7 linked regions of the Homo sapiens genome follow. The protein of the gene in region 1 purifies or fractionates together with the protein of each later gene. This does not show direct contact. Each region holds a gene or a part of one and is shown on either strand. Other genes may lie near its edges. The genes, in order: MAP10, PPP1R15B, AKAP11, GPBP1L1, AMER1, WDR62 and PHLDB3.

Region 1 (4,018 bases):
ACTAACAGTACACATAGGTCCTTGAAAGTTTTTTAAAAGCATGTATTTTTACATTGTGTATCCTGGAAGTTTATTTATTACTAATTCACAAATATCTTTGCATTGCTTGGAAATATTTAGTGAACCAACATCATCATTGCCTTCTTCAAAGTGATCTGATGTACTGCTATCCAGGACATTAAGTTCGGACACATTTGAAGGCAGGTAAGAACTCACCTGGGATGTTTGTGGTGACTGGCTTTTTTCTAAAGATTTCCAACTACTTCTTGTTTTAACAGAGATGTCTTGAGCTCTCTTTGTAATTTCAGAATTGTGCATACTATTTTGATCTATCTGGTTTTCTTTTTGTTCAGTCCAATGTGTTGAAGATAAATCACTAGCAGAGATACTAGATGCTTCCTCCAAACTTTTATCCTGAGTCTTTGAAATATGAAATTTTCTGTATGAGTGTACAGGTGACCCGGCTGAAAAAGGTGGGCTAAGGATAGAACTCCTGTCACTACTATTTTTCTTTTTGGACACTCCTGTGTCACTAGACTTGCTTGTATATTGACTATGTTTTGGATTTTCTGTCCTTGAACTGCTATCATGAGCTTTGAAACTTCTGCTGGTGTCCTCACTGGTACAGAAATCTTCAGAATAGCAAGGGCTAGACAAATCATCTGAATACTTCAGTTCTGAGATGTTTTCATAGCAACTATTTTTACCTGTTCTCTTGTCACTTATATCAGCCATAAGAATGTCATTATCTGTGGTTTTGACCTGTCTAATATCTATTTCCTTATCTACAATTCTGTCAACAACAGCATCCTGTTGGAAAACACATGGACTTTGGATTTTCATTTCCACATTTCCTCCCAGAATATTTGTAGGGGTAAGCCTTTCTGGAATAATGGAATTTGCAGGACTCACAACTTCTTCCAATGAAACATTATTGATTCTATTTTTACTACAATCAACTGTCTTTTTTTCAGTTGCATATTTCAGTTTAGTTTCTTTACTTGTGCTGGGCTCATCAAAAACTCCACTGATTTGTCTTGAGGTATCACTATTTTCAGTGAAAGATGCATCTGAATCTAAATACTTATCTTCAGGCAGTTGTGGCTTCTGACTTTGTTCTGCAGAGCTTAATAGTTTAACTTTGGATGACGGAATTCTGAATTTTGTACCCAACATTTGTGATTGTCTTTTTCTATATAGTTCTCTTTTTTCATGTACCACCAACATATCAGGATTTGTCAGCTTTAAACGTAGTCTTAGTGTATTTGTTAAGCCATAAAGTAGCCTCCCTTTTGGAACTCTTTTATGGAGGGCACCACTGCTCTTTTCAGAATATTTATCTTCCTTATAGTTTTCAATTTGGTTCTTTTTATACTGAAGACTCACTGACTTTTCACATCCCCCCACAGAACGCTTATCCTTCTTGGCTTCAGACCGGCATGTGGATTTGGCAGAAGATTCGGGTGACTTCTTATCCTCAGTCCTATATAACCAGGCTAGGTGAGGATGTATATGAGCAGGACTTGTCACAGGTTGGTCATATAACAAGGACAACTCAACTAACAAAGCATTTAACAAAGGCAACTGCCTTATTGTATTAATTCGATTTTGTTCAGTTTGACATGTTTGATTAGTTGCTCCTATATTCTGAATATGTGGAGGATTTACAAGCATTGGAGGATGTTCGTGTGCTGCAGAACTTGGATGCTTTAGACAACTCCTGTGTGCTGGGGGATTTACACGCTTTTTTTCAGGAGAAGCATCATCCATTTCCTCAGGTGCATTCATTTGAGGCTCAATGGTGATTTTAGCCTGTGCAGGGGGCGGTTTTTCTTGGGTCAAGTTAGTGTAATACAAAGGAGGAGGGCAAAATATATTGGTCTCCATGTCCAATTCTGTGACTTCCTCATTTAGGGAGCTAACATTTCTCCCATTGCCAGCACCTGAACATGTAACAACAGAATTGGTTTTGCCATTCTCCACAGAACCCACATTATCACATTCGGCCTTACTTTTAACCATTTCCTTCAAATCCTTCTGTGCCTCTGGGATTTCTAACTCCCCCAGCGGCTTATCAGCCTCTTTTGGGCTTGGCTGTGAGGCTGGCTGCTGCAGCTGCTGTCTTTCCTGCTGGGTTTGGGGACTGACCTCCGCTCCTCCTCCTGTGCGGGTGAAGGTGAGGGGCCGCTCAAGTTGGCTCAGCAGGCGGCTTCCCAGGTCAGTCAGGCGGTAGGCCAGTGCAATGTCCCCAGTCCGCTCGCCCACTCGATTATGCAGGGGGAAACGTCCCCGGTGACGGTGGGAGCATCCGGAGGCGGCCGGCCCCACGACCCTGTGCGCTGCGGTGGCCAGCGAAATGTCGCAGGCCCCCAGGAGCTGTGGGGTGGGCGTCGGGCGCCCAGGGGGCAGCTGCAGCAGCAAGGTGGCAAGCGGGGTCCGCAGGAGCCGGCAGTGCAGGGTAGCAGGCTGCAGGCGGAAGAGGCAGGACTTGCCGCGACCGAAGCGGATGACACCGGGCCACGGTTCGGCGGCGGGAGCGCCGGGGCCGTCAGGAGGGTAAACCAACAGCGTGGGGAAGTCCAGCAGGCGGAAGGCCACGGCGGGGCACAGACCGCGCGGCGACGAGGCCTCCCCCTGCTCCTTTTCCTCCTCTTCCTCCTCCTGCTCCACTGCGGCAGCGGGGGACGGCAGCAGCCGGGCTTCCAAACGCACCCAGTCCACCAGCAGCTCCAGCGAGAAGAGCCGCTCGGACAGCGAGGCCGCCATTGCTGTTGCCCCAGGAAACGCCGCCGCGGGCTCCGCAAACGAGAAGCTGAAGCCCCGGGGTCTCACGAGAAACCGGAGCAAAAGGCATCGCTGCCTGCTATCTCGCGAGATTTGCGGAAGCGCTCCAGCGGGTCTCGGGCGGTGTCTGCTTTGGGGGTTTTGCTGCTCAATGTGTTTGGCCCCTTTGTATGCATACTTGTGAGCCGTTTTTTGCCACCAACCTTGTATTAAGACAATTGATGATAATGCTGAGGATATAAGTGGTAAAAGACAGTGAGTTTTTTGGGTAATGGTTTTATCACTGCAGATCTTATGTAACTTGGGGGTCAGATCAATATACCTGAGGAATATTGAAAGAAAATCAGGACTCTCCTTCCTTTCCCATGCTAAACAGAGCCAGTTAGTTAACTGTCCACAGTGGGCCATCTCTGTGTCTGCTGTTCTACCCAAAAGATGGTGACACTGCTGGGATGGCCAGGGAGCCCCTGCCTCATCAATTACAGTAGTACTGAGACAGACACACCACACACACACGGAGTGTGAATACACTGGCAAAAACTCTCCTTGGCTGAACTTTGGTCAGGCTCATCTAAGCCTTCTTTCCGACTAGGCCTTGACCTTGGCTTCCAATCCTGTGGACCCTGGATCACCGAGTTGTAGCAAAGGTCTCGCTACGGCTGTTGAGAGAGAACCCCCAACCCTTCATACCTGATTACCGTCGATACCTGATCAAATTCTTCATTTTCTATCATTGGTATCTGACCACCCTGGCCTGGCTTCAGCAAGAATCCTATTAGGCCTGCTTAATCAGAACCCTCCCACCCGTGATGTTCCCTATCAGTAAGTTTCCATCCACTTGACCTGACGCCCCCTTGGCTTTAAATCCCCACTTGTCCATGCTGTAATTGGAATTGAGCCCAGCTCTGTATTGAGGTCTCTTTTCTCTTATTGCAGTAGTTCCTGACTACAGTGTTTTTGCCACTTCAACTACTGTCTGGCCCTGTTTTTTATTTGACAACATTTCCAGCTAAGCAATCATGATGCATGAGAGTAATGTTAATGATTCCATCAATAAAACAAATGTGTGTACATAAATATACACACATCTACAGAGACACACAGAACTTGCTGCTCTATCCAGATATTTTAAGAAACATACTCCTAACCTCAATGAGCTAGCCAGCTAGGAATCCAAGGCCAGTTTTTGGAGAGCCTTGAATGCCATGGTAAAGAATTTGGACTATATTCTGTC
Region 2 (2,968 bases), about 28 Mb from region 1:
ATCCAACTAAATCAAAAAAGGGAGGATTAGAAATCACACTAGTTCATCCTTCATTATCAGGGCTGGCTTCAAACCTGAATGTTTCTGAGTGGGATATGTTGCAAAAAAAAAAATTAAACTAGATCCAAGTTACATTTCCTCTAAAAAAAAAAATGTCAAAGGACAGCTGCCAAGATTTGTTTTTAAAAGACACCTCTCAGGTAAGAGGTAGTGTATGCTAGCTAGGACTACAGGCTGCCAACTCAACATTGCTTGAGAACATTAAGTCCTTTGAAGCATGTTCCCTGGAGTCTATTAAACATTCTTTCTCTGTGTTCAAATGTCAAGCAATATCCAATAGCATCTTCTGTTTCTTGAATTCGTTTCTGGAACCTGCATCCATCCCTTGCAAATTCTTCCCATGGTCCTTTGCGATCCTCATCACCACTTATATAATACTCAGTAACTTCTTCAAGGAAGGTTACCTACAAAAACAAAGACTAATTTTAATAACTGTCTAGGATCTTACAATCAGCATTGAGGTCAATAACCCTTTATGCTACCAATTCTTTCAGAATATTCCCAACTAAGAATAACATATTATTATTAGGAATATTTGGTCCCAGCTATATTTGAAGTTAAAAAAAAAGTTCTGTCACGCCTGTAATCCCAGCATTTTGGGAGGCGGAAGCAGGCGGATCACCTGAGGTCAGGAGTTCAAGACCAGCCTGACCAACACAGTGAAACCCTGTCTCTAGTAAAAATACGAAAAAATTAGCCAGGCGTGGTGGCACATGCCTGTAATCCCAGCTACGCAGGAGGCTGAGGTAGGAGAACAGTTTGAACCTGGGAGGTGGAGGTTGCAGTGAGCCAATATCGCGCCACTACACTCTAGCCTGTGCAACAAGAGCAAAACTCTGTCTCAAAAAAAAAAAAGTTCAGATTAGATGGCATTTGGATAAAATAGTGAACAAATGTCACCTAAATATTTCATATAGAGATATATATCTTTCATCTATATATACTTCATTTATCTATATCTGCATAATATACACACACAGTCGTCTGCCCCCCCCAATCCCCCACCAGCCCTTGGCTTTTGGTGTTAATAAAATGAATCCAGATAGGGAATTGAATTTTTCATGCTGTTATTAACCCCTGCTATTTTTTAATCCTTAGGGAAATACAGTTCTGTGATATTTTTCCCTCAAAATGACAAGCAAAATATTTCTGAAAATAACCACTATATCCCTGGAAGTCACTGTTTTTATCACTGCATAAAGGCTTTAACAATATTTTTGCTTACTTCTATTCTTTTTCCTTTTAAAAATTTTTTTCACTTTCCAACTTTTAAATCAACATGTTGTACTATTTTTGTATCATTACTTTGGCAATAACAATACAGAAGAGAAAAAGTTACTTAGTAAACAAAGTATAGCAAAATTAGTATTTTTAAAGCTGTGTTACTCTAAGAAACTTTGTAGTTAAGATTTTAAAAACCTTTGTATTCAATATGCTATCACTATATATGAAATTGTGATTCTAATATACATAATGACATGTAATGAGTGACAATCCCTACTCATTACTAATCACTACTTAATTTCTAATGAAGTTTCTTTCTAAGATATCAAACTCCAAAAGTAAATACTTGCTTTCAAGTATGTTTAATAGTTACATCAGCTAACCCCAATGTGGCCTACTACTTTCGTTCCCTTTACATCAAGCCAAGGGATGCCCCTGAGGACAATTAGCAGGTATGTAACACCTTACTAGTTATTGCATTCTAGTCTTGAATACTACTCATTCATTGTGTCATTAAGATAAATAATAAAAACGTACAGTGTTTACCATATACCAGGCTTTTTTTAAAGAGCTTTACATTTTTATCTCATCTAATCCTCACATTAACCCTATGAGGTATGGACTATTATCATCCCCATTATACCGATAAGAAAACAGAGGTAGAAGGGTTTTTTAGACTCACTGTCCATCATCCTATATACTCCATATATTCCATACACCATTCCCCATATATACCAATGGCAGGTAGTCAAAGGCTGTCAAATAATTATATCATATTCAGACATAATCATTTATAAATTCTGCTTCTAGTTCATAGTCAATAGTATCATCTACTCCACTCATTTCATTTTACTCAACGAGCAAGCTAAAACAAGACATGAGACTGGCCTGAGGTCTCTCAATAAGAGCTAGCATTTAAAGGCAAGGCAATAAATTCTGAGTTTTATTTACTTGTCTCATTTAAATCTTGCAATAACTTGTACAATAGATATTATTATTTTACCCATCAAGTAAGAGTGAATTGAGGCCATGAGAGTCAAGCAACTTCCCAGGTCTGGCTGCCTTCCAAATCTCTGCGCCTTAACCACTGAGGAGTAGAGAACACAGGGCTCCAGCTGCCAAGTGCTCATTCCATTGCCCCACTTTGTTTCTTACCTATTCATTCTAAATAGGTCATTTTGTCAGGGGCCCCTTAAAAGGACAAAGAGAGATGGCATTTACAAAGTGTGAACTAAAATTTAATCTTTAACATGACTTATTCTGCCCTAAAGGTAAGACGTAAGATTATCACCATTTTGAGACATTTTCTACCCAGGAATAATTTCAAAGTAGTAAGCTGGCCATGTGGAGCCAAGAGATTATGGTACTGTCCATTTGAAACGCCCCAGTGAGGCAGAATCTGAGGTCAATAATAACTCACCCACTAACTTCTCTCTCCAAGTAACGGTATAGAAAACTAAAAAAACGTTCCCTCTACAATAATAGACACCTTTGAGTTTGGAGAAGAGTTCAATTAATAACTTTAGTTGAATCAACTATAAAGAAAAACAAACCAACTCTAAAGACTCCCAAAATAAGGTTAACCTGACAATGTAATTAAAGCGTAAAATGCTGCATGAAGTTTTAAGACTAGCCTGGGAAAAGGAAGCAACTAGTCAAGATAAACCAAGTAAGTGGCCATCAC
Region 3 (3,500 bases), on another chromosome or scaffold:
TAAAGTTAAATTTGTCTTTCAAACTTGAAAGGAGATTCATTCAGATGGATTATTCTTTAAGGTATTATTTCACCTGATGTCCCTTTTTGTTTGATTCATGAACATGACCATAAATATTTCACAAACTGTAATGAACAGAGAGGTGGCATGTGAATGCAATTGGGAAATTATGTGATAGTACATTTTTATTCATTTTTGTTTGTTGTTGTTTGTTTGTAGAGATGAGATCTCACTATGTTGCTCAGGCTGATCTTGAATTCCTGAGCTCAAGCAATCCTCCTGCCCTAGCCTCCCAAAGTGCTGAGATTGCAAGCATGAGCCACCGTGCCTGGCTGATAGTGCATTTTTAGCCAACAAAACGATTATATTCTAAGCTATCATTCCGAGCCAAAATAACCTCACAGTCATTATAAACTCTTCTCTGGACCTCATCCTTTGGGTCATTTCAGCCAAAAACCATGAGAATGTGGCACATATTAGGAAAAGTATTCAAAAAAACAAAGTAGTAATCTATCAATGGTTCAGAACTATAATGTGCCTATGCTTGGAATGCTCAGTATCATTCTGTATCTTACAAAATTAGAATAGCTGAAAAAATGGGGGGCAATTCAGGGGCTATTCTCAGGATAGCACTAGGGATACGGAAGTAAGTAAAACAGGCAAAAATCTGCATTCTCTTGGAGCTTATGTTATAGTGGAATAAGACAATAGGTAAGTAAAATATATAGTATGTCACATAGTGATAAGTGCTTTGGGGGAAAAATAAAGCAAGGTAGGGAGTTAGGGAGTTAGAGAGTGCTGGTGGTGACAGTGGCGGTGGCCATTAGGGCTGGTTTACAGTTTTGGATAGGTAGCAGGGGAAACAATACTGGCAAAGTGATACTTGAGCCAAAAACCAAAAGTGAAATGAGAATAAGTCATGTGGGAGTCACCGAGAACAGATTTCCAGGCCTAGGGGTGGGACTGTGCATGTTTGGGAAACAACAGAGAGGCTTGTATTGCTGAAGTGGGAGGAGTGGGCCAGGGAGAACATAGGAGGAGTGGGCCAGGGAGAACAGTAGGAGTTCAGATGGATGTTATAAGAGGGGACAGGCAGTATGTTTTAAGGATTTGGGCTCTTCGGCTTGGTGGGAAGCCATTGGAAGGTTTTGATCCGAAGACTGACATTTTTTCTTTTTATGGAAACATCACTTTGAACTACTTTGTTGAACATAAAATGTAGTGGGACAATTAAAATAGTTGAGCAGTGAATGGACTTTCTTGTGATGATGGAATAAAAGTATAAATGCCTCTTATTGAGAAAAATGAAAGGGGTTATGATCTATGTTCAAAATCTTGAAGAGATTTGGTTAGTTTGAATACAGGCTTGGTTGACAATACTAGAATTTCTTGAACGACTTTTTTGTTCTTAAAGCCAGAAAGAGACTCCTTTAACATAAATAAAAGTACTGTTTTACAAAGCAGATGATAACTTAGGAACTTGTACTGCCCCATGGTATCTCAGTTGAAAAATGAACTGCTTTAAGTAGAATTTAGAGAAATAATGCCCTAGGGATAGATCCATTGTAGATTAACAAAGTAAGTTATGGCTGTTGGTGGGTACCTCAGTTAACTTTGAAATTAATACGCTATCCTACAGTCTGTTTGTTGGCAGACTCAAATAAAGGATTACATGAGCCACTGGTCTGATTCCGAATACCATTTCTTGTTTTTATCATCTTTGTCATCAAATTGATAGTCTTGTAAGTTCAGAATCTGGGATGCTTTCAATTTGATTTTTTTTCTTTTTTTCTTCTTTTTAGTTCAAAAGAAATAGAAGACTTTCAGTCAACCGAGTCTGTCAGTAGCCAGCAGATGAACCTCAGTATTGGTGATGACAGCACTGGTAGCTGGTCCAATTTAAGTTTTGAAGATGAACACCAAGATGAAAGCAGCAGTTTTCATCATCTAAGTGAAAGGTAACTACACTTTTGCATATAATTGTGTAGTTTAGGTCCTCAGATCTTAGAAGTGAGCTATAAATTTACATTATTATTTAAAAATTCTAAATTTGAAAATATGCTATTACTTTCAAAATGTATTTTATTATTCACAATGTATTTCTAATTGTTTTTAACACTTATTTAATACAGTAAGTAGCCCAGCTAATTTTATTGGGGTGTGCCAATAGTTGATTTGAAAAATATTGCATACATTTAATTTTATGCCTTTTAAGCTTCTCCCAAACTTTTTATGAACTTCTGAGGAAAAATTTTTTTTTTCACTTTAAAAAGGGTACTTTTTTTTCTTTAAAGAACAAGAAAAAGGACAGGTATCTGTAAAAGGCATCAAAGTAGCCCTGTACTTTTCCTGACATTAGTTAAAATAGTATCTTTTTGGTGGGGCGAGGGTCCCTGCTTGTCCTGCTGTTAGGAACAAAATGACCTGGAAGACTTATGCTTGAATGATTGAAAATACGTAAGTCAAAGCCATTATAAAAATGTGATTTTGTATAGCACAAGGCACTTACCTCATATATAACTTTTCTTAGTTAACTTTGTTCATAACAGTGGTGTTTGAAATATTTTATTAATTATGAGACAGTTGTTTCTTATAGTCTTAACCTCTACCTAAAGGCATTTCTGACTAACCTATAAAATTCTATAAACTCTTTATCCACATTAAGTGATAACTGGAAATAATAGATACCATTTGTAGCAGAGTCTTGAGGGAGGAAAGGGTTCTTAGCATATTGCTGGTTTCAGGCATGTGTGGAAAGGACCTGTGGACCATCAGTTGAACTTAGCCCCTGGAAATGGCAAACTAGGTGTGGGAGGGAAGGCAACTCTTGGAAAAGGGAATGAGGTAGCATAAGGAAAGGAAATGGCTTTTCACCTGATAGAACACTTCATCTCGAAGAGTTTTGTTCGATGCTTGGATTAACCTGGAAATATTAATATTTTTGTAAAGTATATTTTGTCATAGTTTATTATGGTGCTATATAAACCACCAATATTTCTTAAAATCTAGGTCCAAAAAGACAGTGTTTAAAACTGGTAGAAGCAAGTGGGGGCAATGTCACAAATCATGATTTGGCCCTTTTCTATAACTTTATCTAGAAAAGGATACTAACATTTAGTTTCTTCTCTCATTTTGAGAAACACAGGCTTCTATGATTTCAGTGGGGTTGACAGTGTTGCCTAGGAAATCCTGGCGTTAAAATGGGAGATTGAGGTGTGGGTAGAGGCTTTAAGCATTAAGAGGACTTGTAGTCAGTTGAACAACTCTGTGCTGAATATTATCTAATTTGATGAGAAAAAGGAGTCGTCTTACCGGTTTCTGTCCTTGGTTCTGTCCTCCTTAGCATTATTTATTAATGATGTGGAATACTCATTTGTGGATGATTCAACACAGGCTGAAAAAAGAATCTCATTAACAGAACAAAGGTTAAAAAGACCAAATCAAGCTGAGGTTAAAATAATTATGTTTAACATGGATAAATGCATTTAGGCTCAGAAAAT
Region 4 (3,500 bases), about 190 Mb from region 1:
GTAGTTTCCCCCTCGAGACTTGTGATAACCACATCTTTTAAATCTGTAAATAATGTTATCAAAATAATCTTAATCTTTGAAATCTCACAAAAATTTATATTTTACAATCCACCCTGAATATCAAGGCTGCAAGAATAACACAACATTTCCTATATCCAAATATTTTACAGCTGTACCCAAAAAGGAAAAAGAAAAAAAAAACAAAAAAAAACAACCAAAAAAACCCACATATGCTTGGTTAAGGGCTAAAGTTACCCGAGCAGCCAAAAATAAAATAAAATATCCAAATTATTAGCATTAATTTAATACAATTATAACTTCAATAGTCACTTTGTCATTGACAATGATTGCTTGATCACAGGGGTGAGTGCCCCAAGGGCTGGTAGTAGAAGCTGTTGCTGCAGACCAGTGTCTCCTCTTCCCTGCACTGCCAGCTCCTACCTGTGCATCGCCCCATATATACTGGGTGTGTATGTGTGTGTGTGTGTGAGTGTGTTTAAAAAATCTGTCCCACCACACAAACTTCTCTCTATAAAGCAGATAACAGGGAAGAACAATAACAAAAGCAAAACAAGCCAATTGCTCTCTCTTTGGGATATGATTATTTCCCTTGTGAATGAAGTATTCAACAACATAAGAAAAGGAAAAGAACGATTTCTTTTGTATACTCCCTAAACACACAGAGTTTACTGGGTCAGATTTAACTGTGAGCATTTATATGCCTACTTCCAGGCATCGTCATCTGATGTTTCACTGCTACTGGTTTCGGTGTCTGAGTCCTCAAACTCTGCTTTGCAAGTGCTTCTCCAAGGGGAGAACAGACTGGAACTGCGGCTCTGCAAGAAGCCATTCTTTCCAAAGCCATTTCTTCTCAGCTATGGTTAGCATGGGAGAGAAAGAAAAAAGAAAAAAATATCAATGACTGTACTGACCCATAAGCCCTGGGAAAGGCCAGGCCTCAATTCAATTCTAGGTAGAATGTGGGGCGGGGGGTGCTTCTAAGAGACCCTCTGAGATCTCTTATACCAGTACTTTTCAAATTTTAATTTACGAGTCATCTACGCATCTTTCAAAAATGCAGATTCAGATTCAGAATGTCTGGGATGGGGCTTGAAAGTCCTTATTTCTTTTTATTTATTTATTTTTTTGAGACGGAATCTCGCTCTGTCACCCAGGCTAGAGTGCAATGGCACAATCTTGGCTCACTGCATCCTCCGCCTCCTGGGTTCAAGCGATTCTCCTGCCTCAGCCTCCCAAGTAGCTTGGATTACAGGCGCACACCACCACGCCTAGTTAATTTTTGTATTTTTAGTAGAGATGGGGCTTCACCATATTGGCCAGTATGCTCTTGAGCTCCTGACCTCGTCATCTGCCTGCCTCGGCCTCCCAAAGTGTTGGGATTACAGGCGTGAGCCACTGTGCCCAGCCATAAGTCCTTATTTCTAACAGAGTTCTAAGTGGCAAGGTCTCACATCAGCTTGTGCCATGCCCCTTTTAAGGACTTGGCCAATTGTGCTGTAAATACAGGCCACCAGAAGTTCAAGGATTTTTATAGAAACCCCATTTGTCTTGTTCACCCTAAGATCTAGCAGTGTTTTATTCAGAGAAAGAATCCAAGCAACTGCTGGATAAACTGACACAAGCTATTTAGCTTCTTAGCTCTGGCCAGAGGACCAGGAAACTACAGTGCAGATCAGGAAGCAGAGGAAGGTGAACCTGCTTCCTTAAAGACCAAGAGCTCAGACCATAGCTCTGGAACACAGCCTTGTGGTTCTGATAAGGAGTTAGAGCTGTTAGGATGAAAGAGCATACTATTTTTTGGAATCTGCTAATCACTGACACTTGGTTTTTGTATATAACACTGGGGATCCTTATTTCCCAGGCAGATTTAGGGGCCCCACTACATTTCTACTAAGGTAATCCCCCCCCCCCCCACCCGATCTTTCTCTCACATTAAACTTGCTCCCTCAGGGCAAGAACTGTCTTGACTCCTTATTCTCCTGGTTACTAACTGGTCTCTAGGAAGAAGGTTTACAACATACCTGCTCTGTCTTCATGTGGAACTCTTTGAGCTCATCCTCTGTGAGGGGAAGGCAATTCTCATCATTTTCAGGATATTCCTGCCAACCCATAGCTTTCAATAACCTGGTGGACGCAGAAGGACAGGTAAAGAGAATACAACATCACTAAGCCTAAGTGAACAGCCCACCACTTTTCACAGAAAAGTTTTCTGCCCAGGGGCAATGGATGTTAAAGAAGGAATTTTGTTTTCCTCCCTGTGGGACAAGCTTTAATTGTGGCTACCTGGGTGCTGTAAATAAATGGAGGCTCTTCACAGTTGAGAGAGGAAGAGCTAAAGAAGAGACAGTAGAAGCAAAACCAAGACAGTGTAAGGAAGAAAGAGAGCACTTGCAGTCTGGCTTTTTTTTTTTTTTGGGATGGAGTCTCACTCTGTCACCCAGGCTGAAGTGCAGTGGTACAATCTCAGCTCACTGCAACCTCCGCCTCCCGGGTTCAAGCCATTCTCCCGTCCCAGCCTCCCTAGTAGCTGGAATTACAGGCGCACACTACCATGCCCAGCTACTTTTTGTATTTTTGGTAGAGACAGGGTTTCGCCATGTTGGCCAAGCTGGTCTCAAACTCTTGACCTTGACTGATCCACCCACCTCAGCCTCCCAAAGTGCTGGGATTACAGGCATGAGCCACTGCGCCCGGCCTGAAGTTAAAAGTATTAAAGTATTGGAGAGTAGATTGTGGAAAAGATGGCTGAGTTTGAGAGAGAATGCTTGATGAGCAACAGGCCAACCTGGGGCATACACAGAGAACAAGTTATGACTGGGCCACTTCTCTCTGCATGTGGGACCTATCTATCTGAGATATCTTCTCCAGTATGTTCAAGGTCCTTAAAGGTCAGACACTGCATGCCCTGTGATGTCCTCCTCACTTACCTGTGCTCTGCTTCTAGAGAGTGTGAGAGAACCTCCCCTTCTTCCACTACAGGGAGGGCAAGACCATTTTGATGACAGCCTTCCTCCCCATTTTCCTTTGGTTCAGGTGTGCTGTTGTCCTCCAACTGCAATAAGGAAAAGGAAGGACACAGTTGGTTTAAGGTTCCTTTGTAGTAATATAAGCAACCTATGAAATCAAGGACTCACGACCCAGGAAGTGTTTTCCAAAAGACAGCCTCAGCCCACAGATTTTTTTCCCCATTTACAAATGAGGACCTGCTGCATCAACAAAACTGATTCTAAAGTTTTAATGAAAAGGCAAAAGATCCAGAACAGCCAACACAATACTGAAGAATAAAACCAGAGTACTGATATTACCTGACATCAAGACTTACCACAAAAGCTGGAGTAATTAAAACAGTATGGTAACAGTGCTCATAAGAGGTGTGGGGGGAAAAAGTGTGGTACTGGCAGAAGATGACACAAATAGTCCAATGGGACAGAACAGAGAGCCCACAAATAGACAACTGATCTTTGACAAAGGAAATACAA
Region 5 (3,500 bases), on another chromosome or scaffold:
CTGAGATACCTTAAGCTCTGCATGGTCTGAAATCCCCTTTCTTGCTGGCTGTGATAAATGGACCCTCATTTTCTATCTTTCCCCTACACTCCACAAAAACCCCAGCCCCTATAGTCAAGCCTAATTTAGGTTGCTTCTCTTCCCTTATCTCAATTAAAAGACCGTGTTCCTTGTGATGAGATTATGAAAATTTCCTTTAGAGGAAAAAAGAACAAAAATTCAAAAGCATCTGCAACTCAGGTAGTCACAAGCTTAAAAGAAGGAAAAAAAATCCTATCATTCCGGAGCTCAACACTCTATGGCAGTGTCCACAACAGAACCTTGTTTTGTCTTCTGTTTGCAAATGGATGAATTTTATCACTCCATCAAGGGGATTAGCATTTTTGTCTTTAACCCAAGCTATGGCAGGACAGTTAAAAGGCCCCCATCTGGTCATGATGCCAAAGTCCACAGCGATAGGCTGTGAGACACACGCTACTTGATCCTCTCTAAGGACAGCTAGCTGGGATGAATAGCTTATAGTCATCTGATATAATGATGGCAGCTATGCCAGGCCAAAAGGAATAGGGGTGGGGAGGATCTGTACCATAATTTCACATTGCTAATAGCAAATAAGCCCCACTTCCCCAAGCGGGAGGCAATGCAGACTTGGCTGCTAATCAGTGGTTCATCATTCATTGGGGGAAAGGGGCAGGGGGCACTAAAGGTTTAGCCTGTGTCAAGGATGCATGCTATATATGTGTGTGCATGTGTGTTTGTGTGTGTGTGTGTATGTATGTGTGTGTGTGTGTGTGTGTGTGTGTGTGTATATATATATATATATATATATATATATATATATATATATATAATCACTAACTTGGCAACTGGAATAGGCACAAAATTACAGCATCCCAAACCCAGCGTGGGTCACAAGAAGAAACCTCGAAAGCAAAAACTGGAGTGCAGTAGCAGCAGCAGCCTCCCTGGGCAGATGCACTTGAGTTGAACGTGGCCATAGATGGCAGAAGAGGCAAGTGGGAAAACCAAGGTGAAAACTCACAGGAGTTTTCCTTGGCCCAAAGGGTTTTCAAGTTAAACAACAACCCCCACCCCCCCACCCTTCTGCCCAACCCCTGATCCCCATTCACATGCTCAGGCCCCGTGTCCCTACTCCAGAATTGATAATAACTACTTGGCTAGGTTTCCATTCATGGCAGTGGAGGAGTAGCTGGTGGCAAGAGAGGCACCTTGCTCAGCCCTCTCCTTTGACAGGTCAAGGCTGGAAGGCCCATAGTGAGTGGGCTGAGGCTGGGGGTGCTCAGGCCGGACCCTGGGCAGCTGAGGAATGCCATGGGTGATGCCCACAGGCTTGGCCTGTGGTAGAGGGCTGGGGCTGAAGCCTCCAGAACTGGAAGAGCAACTGGGCTCATCAACAGGCAGCAGCACATCTCGAGGCCTGGCCCTCATGCTCTGGGAGGCCTGTGGCTGGAGGTTATAGCAAGGGCCCATGGGCAGGTGTAGGTGTGAGGGACGAGCTAGTTGAGGCCCAGATTCCCCAGGTGCCCTTGACTCTGGCACTGATAGTGATATTGACATGGTCATAGGAGGTATGCAACAGGTTGCCTGCCTATATGGAGACTGGCTGGAAGGCCTGTCCAACTGGTTGGGGCTTATCCAGGCAGGACCTGGCCCCACTGGAAGAGGACAGGGAGCCCAAGCAGGCCAATCATAGGCCCCTGGGGGTTCAGTATAGAGGGAAAGGGGACTGTCTCGGCTCCATTCTCCTTCTTCCTCCTCTTCGTCCTCCTCATCTGAATCTTCCTGCTGGGCCTGCAGCTCATCAGACTCGAGGTAGCCCTGGACCAAGTGGGAATTGGAGAGCTCCATCTCCAGGGTCTCTGCAGTGTCGAGAGAGCGGCTTCTCCTGTTGAGGGCCATAGCAGCAGGTGGAGGTCGAGGGTGCAGGCCAGGCAGTCCCAAGTATCGAGGGAGGCTGCTCACACCCCAGGGCAGGCCTTGGTAGAATCGACTATGGTAGTTGTTGAAGGCATGTTTGTGATAGTAGCCCAGCTCAAAGGCTTCCAAGGAGGCTGCAAGATCTTCATCATTGTGGAACTCAGGATTCTCTTCACACTTGCCTTCCCCATCCCGTTCCACATCAGCGATGTCAAAGGTCACCATGGGAGGCAGCTCAGGGAGGTTTTGAGTGAAAGATGAGTCAGAGTCAGAGCTGCAGGACATGCTGGAAAAGAGGTTCCCATTGCTGGTGAACTCTACCAGGGCCTGTGAGAAACTCACAGTGGCATTCCCTTCCTTCTCAACCTCCTCTTCCTCTGGATCTTCAGGGGGTGAATAAGTAGGGTAGGCCCTCCTGGGAGATCCTCCAAAATTTGCTTCTTGCATGTCTGGCTCAAACATGGCATCACTCTGGAAGAGCTGCATCAGGCAGGTACTTTGATCTTTCTTGGAGCAGGTTCCTTCATAACGCTTCTCCAGAGGACGGAAGTCCCTCCAGTCTGGCTCGCTGCTTGCAGTGGTGGGGAAAGCTGAGGTAATTCCCCGGTGGGAAATCTGAGAGGTCCCTGATACCCCTGCTGCCAGGCCCATCACTGATGGGCCTAAGGGCCTCATCTGATACTCTAAGACGGGCTTCTCCTGCCGGGCCTGGGTCTCTCGGACTTGAGTCTCTCTACAACGAACCTCTCGGGCCTGGGCTTCTCGGGTTCTGGCCTCCCTGCCATGAGCTTCCCAAGTGTGGGCCTCCCTGGCATAGGCTTCCCTGCCATAAGCCTCTCGAGTATAGGCCTCCCTGGCGTGGGCCTCCCTGGCATGAGCTTCTCGGGCACGTGCCTCCTGGGCCTCAAGCTGCTCCCGCCGAAGCTCCCAATACAACAACTGTTTCTGGATGGTCACTAGCCGTTCTTCCTCTGTCTCCATTGCCCCAGGTGGCCGGGAGGACAAAAAGGGCTCAAAGTTTAAGAAGGGGTCAAACATCTCAGAGCTTCGACCATGGAGGTCATAAAGGCAGTCATCTCCAGGTGGAGAGTTCTCAAGGCTGTCATCTGGCTCATAGAACTCATATAGGGCATCTCCACTGTAGCTGTCTCGGGGTAGACAATCCCTGCGGACAAGCCCCAGGGCCTCACCTGAATCATCCTCAAATCCAGGTGTGGTGGAGTCATAATAACCTTCATCACTATTGGGGGCGGATTCTTGCTGGTCACTCTGAGGAGTCAAAAGTTCCCCAGGGGCTAGGCCAGGATAAGACCTAACTGGGTCAAGGAGCATGTAGCCGTGGTGGCCTGGGGATGTGGTGGGATGGTAGCCCAGGTTCATATTGGGCCGTGGATACATTTGGGCAGTTTCCCACAGATATTCTAAGTCATCATCTTCTTCCTCCTCCTTAACCTCCTCTTCTTCCTCCTCTAATTCCACCTCTTCTTCCTCTTCTTCCTCCTCGTCATCATCATCTGGCAAGGCCATCTCCTCCCCACCTCCTTGGTAGGTCACCAGGCAGG
Region 6 (2,856 bases), on another chromosome or scaffold:
TCCTGAGTAGCCGGGATTATAGGTGCAGGCCACCATACCCAGCTTGGGCAAGCCTGTTCATGGGTCCTCAGTTTCCCCTGTTGCAGATGGGGACACCACCACCGTGGACTTTGTGGGATCTAGTGTGGCCTTGGCCCAGAGGCCCTGAGCCATGATATGGCAAAGCGTGGACTGCTGGGCAAGGTAGGCACATGGTGATCACAGCAGCCCCAGTGAGTTCTCAGGCACTGGCAGGGGGCAGGTAAGAGGGTCTGGCTCCTCCCTGGGGCACAAATGGGCCCCACTGGGTAAGCACCTCACACTGGTCTGTGGCAGCTCTGTGGGCAGTGTGGGAGGACTGGCCCTGAGGTCATGGCTGCAGTTCCTGAACTTCTTGGGAGCGCTGGTCCCATGCTCTCCACTGACAGACACGAGTCCTCTGGGCATCACCTTCTACCCTCCCTCCCCACTTCCACTTGAAGAGGGCTTTGTGGATAGGCCCAAACAGACACCAGGAACCATTCCTCAAAGCTGTCAGTTTATTCGCTTAAAATACCTAAGTCCTCAGAAGCAGCAGGGCTGCGGTGGAGGGGCTGCGCCCTCAGTGCCCCCGTGCCTTCCTCCGCACGGCCTGCACCAGCAGCTCCGAGTAGTGTTCCAGCAGGGCCTGCAGGTCTGGGCTGGCCAGGGGGTACAGCGTCGGTGGGGACGGGGGTCCTGGGCTGGGCAGAGCCTGGGCTGGGGCCACACTAGTCCCCACCAGGCATTCAGCCTCCAGCTGGCTGTGGATCCACAGGAAGGTGGAGACCAGCTCAGTCCGTGCCTGCTGCTGCCCGGTGTCCACCTGGCCACTGGAGACCAACTGCAAGGGATGCCAGCCTTGTCAGGGGCCACCAAGGCCGGGCGGTCTCAAGAGACCCCTCAACCCTTTCCCAACTCTGGGGCTTAGCTCACCACACGGTAAAGGTCGAGGGCTTCTTGGAAGGTGGTCTGCAGCCTGTGCAAGATGTTCCCCACCCTGCTCAGCTCAAGGGGAGATGGGGGCAGGGCTTCAACCGGCACCCAGGGCTCACTCCAGCGGGCAGGGCTGCCCTGTAACAGACCAAGTGCACCTGGGGTAGAGAGAAGGGAATGAGCAAGATGAGCTGCATTCCATTGGTGTGAGCGGCCAGAGCGACTGGGTGGACTCCATGCTGTACTTCTGTCTGGAACACTTCTCTGGGTCCCCAAGGCTCCCTCCCCTTCACTCCTACAGGTCTCTGCTCCAATGCAGCCTCCTCCCTGAAGCCTCTTCTTATCTTCTGGTTTGTAATCCCAACCCCTGTCCCCACCCTGCACTCCCTCGCCCTCCTCTGTCCCTCCTAAGCATGTGTCACTTCGTGATACATATGACGGGTTCCTTAAAGGTTTAGTCTGGGCATTGTCCCCATTGAAGCTGTCAGTTCTCTGTGTTGTTTACCACCATGTCCCATGTCCCAGGGTTTAGCACAAAGCCCAACATGTAATGCTCATTAAATATTTAAGTTAATGCACGAATGAATGAATGGCACAGTCCCTGTGGCCAGGTCAAGTATCCATCTTTGGAGCTGAGCCAACTAGCACACAGGATGAGCTTAGGGGACAGTCCTTGCTCCAGGGCTGTACTCACCGGAGGTGGGCTCCAGGAGGGAGGCAGTGCCGCCAGGGATGCCAGGCCGGGCCTCTGGAAGCTGGGGGTTACTGGGGTGGGCAGGAAGGCCAGGGGACTCAGGAGCTGGGAGACTTGGGCGAAAGGCAGAGCCGTGGAGCCTCAGGGCGCTCTCTTCCACAGGGCTAGGGGCTGGGAAGCTCACTGCAGGGACGGTGACGCCAGGCTGGGTATCCACGGGGGGCTGCAGGAGCCCATCACAGGCACTTGACAGGGTCAGTCTCAGGTTGGCCCGGGCCTCGTGGTTGCCCCAGGAACGCAGGGCAGGCTCTTGGCCCTCACTGTCCAAACTGGGTGTTGTCGCGGTGGTGATGGCCTGAAGCTCCTGGCCCAAGGAGGCCAGCTCCCCAACGGACGATGGCCTACGGAGGGGCTGGGCCAGTGTGGCCACGATAGGGCCCTCACTGTCACCGAGGGAGATGCTGCGTGATATCCTGGCACGGGAGCTGGCAGTGGCCTCCATGTAGGAACAGGTGGAGGGGGCATGGACACCCTGAGCCAGGCCTGGGGTGGGTGCAGATGTGGGCGTTGGGAGATTCCTGTCTGTGGGCAGCACGGAGGAAGCAGGGACACAGGACGCCAGGCTCGTAAGGCAGGGAGCTGTAACGGAAGCAGATGGCACTGACTCCACCACACAGAACTGATGGCTAGGGCCCCCACGCCCCACAGCTAGGCTGGACATCCGGCCACTCGCCGAGAAACCCAGGACTGTCCGTCTGGGACTGGGGCACTCACGTGGTGGGCGCCAGGCCTCCAGGGTCTCTTCAGCCTTCCCTGCAGCGAGGACCTGCAGGCACAGCTCTGAGGTGAGGACAAGGCCTCAGGGTTCCCAGCCCCGTGCCCTGACGGAGGTGGGCCCAATACTCACGTGGGTCCTGTCTGGGGAGGCGTAGCCAGTACCTGCTCTGGGCTGGCTTCCGCCTCGGTCCATGAGCTTGACCTCTGGAGACTTCACAAGGCACTGGGTTGCCCGGGGAGGGAAGGTATGGGTGAACCTGTGGGGAGGAGAGCAGGGGGGATGATTCTCATTCAGCCTGCCCTGGGGCACTGTTGAGGAGCCAGAGGGTGGGCAGTGCTTGGCCAGCTTCTACCTGGATGCCTTCTGGAGGCTTGAGAGGAACTGCGTGGAGATACTCAGGCGTGGGTTGAAGAAGTGGTCTTCAGCTTCAGAGGCCTCCACGTCTCCCAGA
Region 7 (3,500 bases), on another chromosome or scaffold:
ATTGTGGTAATGTTTGCGCAACGTTGAATATACTAAAAGACACAGAACTGTACATTTTAAATGAATGAATTGTATAGGGACGTGAATTATGCCTCAATAAAACTCTTTCTAAAAATCCCACTGTGGGCCAGGTGTGGTGGCTCACACCTGTAATCCCAGCACTTTGGGAGGCCGAGGCGGGTGAATAACTTGAGGTCAGGCGTTTGAGACCAGCCAGGCCAACATGGTGAAACCCCGTCTCTACTAAAAATACAAAAATTAGCCAGGTGTGGTGGCACATGCCTGTAATCCCAGCTTTTCAGGAGGCTGAGGCAGGAGAATTGCTTGAACCTGGGAGGCAAAGGTTCCAGTGAGCCGAGATCTCGCCACTGAAATCCAGGCTGGACGACAGAGCGAGACTCTGTCGCAAAAAAAAAAAAGTCCCACTGCAGCCAGGCGCAGTGGCTCACACCTATAATGCCAGCACTTTGAGGCTGAGGCAGGCAAATTGCTTGAGCCCAGGAGTTGGAGATGAGCCTGGGCAACATGGTGAAACTCTGTCTCTACAAAAAAATAGAAAAATTAGCTGGGCATAGTGGCACGTGCCTGCAGTCCCAGCTACTGTGGAGGCTGACGTGGAAGGATCGCTTGAACCCCGGAGGTCAAGGTTGCAGGGAGCTGAGATTGTGCCACTGCGCTCCAGTCTGGGCGACAGAGTGACAGCCTGTCTCAAAAAAAATAAGTAAAACAAAAAAACAAAAAACCCACCGTGCTGGTGGCTATGTAGGAAACCCAGATGCCCTCACATGATACTGGGGGTGTTCTACTGGAACAAGCTTTATGGAGGGCAACTTGGCTTTTTTAAAAAAAATCTGAATGACAAATGCATAAACCATGGAGCCCCAATTCCAATTCTAGAAATTCAGCGGATGGATACACTCATACACATGCAAAGTGATCTGAGTTCAAGGTGATTCCCTGCAGTGCCATCTGTGCTAGCAAAAGCCTGGAGACCACCTAAATGCCCATCAGAAGGGGACAAGGTAAATGAACCATGGCTTATGCACTCCATAGACCATTTTTTTTTTTTTTGAGTTGGAGTCTCACTCTGTTGCCCAGGCTGGAGTGCAGTAGCACAATCTCGGCTCATTGCAACCTCCGCCTCCTGGGTTCAAGCGATTCTTCTGCCTCAGCCTCACGAGTAGCTGGGATTACAGGCATGTGCCACCACGCCAGGCTAATTTTTGTATTTTTAGTAGAGATGGGGTTTCACCATATTGGCCAGGCTGGTCTCGAACTCCTGACTTCAAGTGATCCACCTGCCTCGGCCTCCCAAAGTGCTGGGATTACAGGCGTGAGCCACCGCACCCAAGTGACTCTAAGGACAATTCTGCAGTGTAGAACAAGAGGAAGATGCATCCTACATCCAGGTAGAACATAATATCCAAAAAAGAAAAGAAAAAAAACAGAACATAATATCCAAGAGAAAACCAAGGCCAGGTGTGGTAGCGTGCACCTGTAGTCCCAGCTACTCAGGAGGCTGAGGTGGGAGGATCACTTGAGCCCAGGAGGTTGACCCTGCAGTGAGCCATGATCATGCCACTGCACTCCAGCCTGGGCGACAGTGAGATCTATCTCTTAAAGTTTTTTTTTTTTTTTTTTTAAGCGAGTACAGAACAGCATAGAATAAACTAGGTATGCATAAAAGAGGGAGAAAGTACATACATGACTAGCTGTGTCAACACAGAATATCTCTGGGGAACACATGGGAAATTGGTAACCCTGGTGGCCCTCAGGAAGTGAACAGCGTAGGAGGGGGAACAAGAGCCGCAGAGTCTTCTCTGAATATCCTCCCACACCATGTGAATTTTGAACGAGGAGAATGTTAACTTTTTAAAAGCAAATAAACATGACAACTAAATGCAACCTGTGTTCCTGAGCCAAGAAAAAAAAAGTTTGTTTTTTTTTGTGAATTTTTTGCTAGAAAAAACACTGGTGGGGCCAGGAACAGTGGCTCATGCCTGTAATCCCAGCACTCTGGAAGGCCGAGGCAGGCAGATCACCTGAGGTCAGGAGTTCGAGACCAGCCTGGCCAACATGGTGAAACCCCGTCTCTACTAAAAATACAAAAATAAGCTGGGCGTGGTGGTGGGCACCTGTAATTCCAGCTACTCGGGAGTCTGAGGCAGGAGAATCACTTGAACCAGGGAGGCAGTGGTTGCAGTGAGCCGAGATCACACCACTGCACTCCAGCCTGAGCGGCAGAGCAAGACTCTGCCAAAAAGGAAAAAAAAAAAGAAAGAGCAAGAGAGAGAAAAAGGAAGGAAGGAAGGAAGGAAGGGAAGGAGGAAGGGAGGGAGGGAGGGAAAAACATTGGTGGAACAACTGACAAAATACAAATAAGGTCTGTGGATTCTAATAGTGTTGTCTCAGTGGTAGTTTCCTGAAATCGATCATTGAACTGTGGTTGTGTAAGAGAATGGGCTTGACATTAGGTAGTAAATTTAGGAATATTTAGGGGTTAAGGGGAATCATGGGTAAGAAAATAATGGGCCAGGCATGAAGGCTCACACCTGTAATCCTAGCACTTTGGGAGGTCCAGGGAAGGCAGATCACTTTAGCTCAGGAATTTGAGACCAGACTGGGGCAATATAGTGAGACCCCATGTCTACAAAGAATACAAAAATTAGCCTGGCGCATGTCTGTAATCCCAGCTACTTGGGGGGCTGAGGCAGGAGAATCGCTTGAGTCTGGGAGGTAGAGGCTGCAGTGAGCCAAGATCGCACCATTACACTCCACTCCAGCCTGGGCGACAGAGCGAGACTGTCTCAAAAATTGAAAACTAAAAAAAATAAAAACTCTGGGAGTTGAGAAATGTTAGCTCCACTTCACAGAGAAGAAACTGAGGCTCAAATCCCCGTGCTTTACTTGACTTTTTCCTTCCTTCCAGCCACATTCCCAGCACTTCCTAGCTGGGAGATATTAGATACTTGGCACTGAGGAACCAAGTGGGCAGGTCAGACCCCAGCTTTGTCTGCAGGGCACTTATGTTGTAGGAACTGCATAAGCCATCAGCAGGCCATAGAAACAGGCCGGTTCGGGTTCAAATCCCAGCTCTGCCACTTCCTGGGTGCATGACGTAGGCAAGTCATTTCTCTTCTCAAGCGAGGTGTCCTCTCTGTAAAGTGGGTAACATCTCACTGCCCTTCCTGGGTTGTTGCAAGGATTAAATGAGTGACCTCCTGCAATGCATGTAGAAGCATGCATGGCCCCCAGGTGAGATCCAGGAGCTAAGCAATGATCCACATTGGTGGGTACAGGGTGCACCTGGGCTTAGAGGCCTTCTGTGCACAGGGGCCAACAAGTCAGGTGACAACTCCATAGGACTGGACATGGCGTCCCACCAAATATTTTCATATATGCAATTTACTAATAAGGGTAATTGCTATCCTAAGTCACGTTGCCTGGCAACACAGCTGACACCTACCTTCATCAGGTTTCCAGGGGAAGCAGCCAGAAAG

The links.
Region 2: the proteins of MAP10 (region 1) and PPP1R15B purify together in Homo sapiens (affinity purification with mass spectrometry; one large-scale study listed by BioGRID and IntAct). This does not show direct contact.
Region 3: the proteins of MAP10 (region 1) and AKAP11 purify together in Homo sapiens (affinity purification with mass spectrometry; one large-scale study listed by BioGRID and IntAct). This does not show direct contact.
Region 4: the proteins of MAP10 (region 1) and GPBP1L1 purify together in Homo sapiens (affinity purification with mass spectrometry; one large-scale study listed by BioGRID and IntAct). This does not show direct contact.
Region 5: the proteins of MAP10 (region 1) and AMER1 purify together in Homo sapiens (affinity purification with mass spectrometry; one large-scale study listed by BioGRID and IntAct). This does not show direct contact.
Region 6: the proteins of MAP10 (region 1) and WDR62 purify together in Homo sapiens (affinity purification with mass spectrometry; one large-scale study listed by BioGRID and IntAct). This does not show direct contact.
Region 7: the proteins of MAP10 (region 1) and PHLDB3 purify together in Homo sapiens (affinity purification with mass spectrometry; one large-scale study listed by BioGRID and IntAct). This does not show direct contact.

What each region holds. Positions count from the first base shown.
Region 1 is NC_000001.11:232,804,198-232,808,215, reverse strand, and holds the start of MAP10 (microtubule-associated protein 10), read right to left. Parts: upstream 2,801-4,018; 5' UTR 2,767-2,800; coding exon 49-2,766; 3' UTR 1-48. UniProt on the Homo sapiens protein: Microtubule-associated protein (MAP) that plays a role in the regulation of cell division; promotes microtubule stability and participates in the organization of the spindle midzone and normal progress of cytokinesis.
Region 2 is NC_000001.11:204,405,850-204,408,817, forward strand, and holds part of PPP1R15B (protein phosphatase 1 regulatory subunit 15B), read right to left. Parts: intron 465-2,968; coding exon 243-464; 3' UTR 1-242. UniProt on the Homo sapiens protein: Maintains low levels of EIF2S1 phosphorylation in unstressed cells by promoting its dephosphorylation by PP1.
Region 3 is NC_000013.11:42,306,652-42,310,151, forward strand, and holds part of AKAP11 (A-kinase anchor protein 11), read left to right. Parts: intron 1-1,802; coding exon 1,803-1,958; intron 1,959-3,500. UniProt on the Homo sapiens protein: Binds to type II regulatory subunits of protein kinase A and anchors/targets them.
Region 4 is NC_000001.11:45,627,534-45,631,033, forward strand, and holds part of GPBP1L1 (vasculin-like protein 1), read right to left. Parts: intron 3,074-3,500; coding exon 2,949-3,073; intron 2,146-2,948; coding exon 2,043-2,145; intron 876-2,042; coding exon 723-875; 3' UTR 1-722. UniProt on the Homo sapiens protein: Possible transcription factor.
Region 5 is NC_000023.11:64,188,709-64,192,208, forward strand, and holds part of AMER1 (APC membrane recruitment protein 1), read right to left. Parts: coding exon 1,171-3,500; 3' UTR 1-1,170. UniProt on the Homo sapiens protein: Regulator of the canonical Wnt signaling pathway.
Region 6 is NC_000019.10:36,102,753-36,105,608, reverse strand, and holds the end of WDR62 (WD repeat-containing protein 62), read right to left. Parts: coding exon 2,758-2,856; intron 2,662-2,757; coding exon 2,535-2,661; intron 2,454-2,534; coding exon 2,402-2,453; intron 2,267-2,401; coding exon 1,628-2,266; intron 1,092-1,627; coding exon 934-1,091; intron 842-933; coding exon 581-841; 3' UTR 501-580; downstream 1-500. UniProt on the Homo sapiens protein: Required for cerebral cortical development. Plays a role in neuronal proliferation and migration.
Region 7 is NC_000019.10:43,487,747-43,491,246, forward strand, and holds part of PHLDB3 (pleckstrin homology-like domain family B member 3), read right to left. Parts: intron 1-3,500.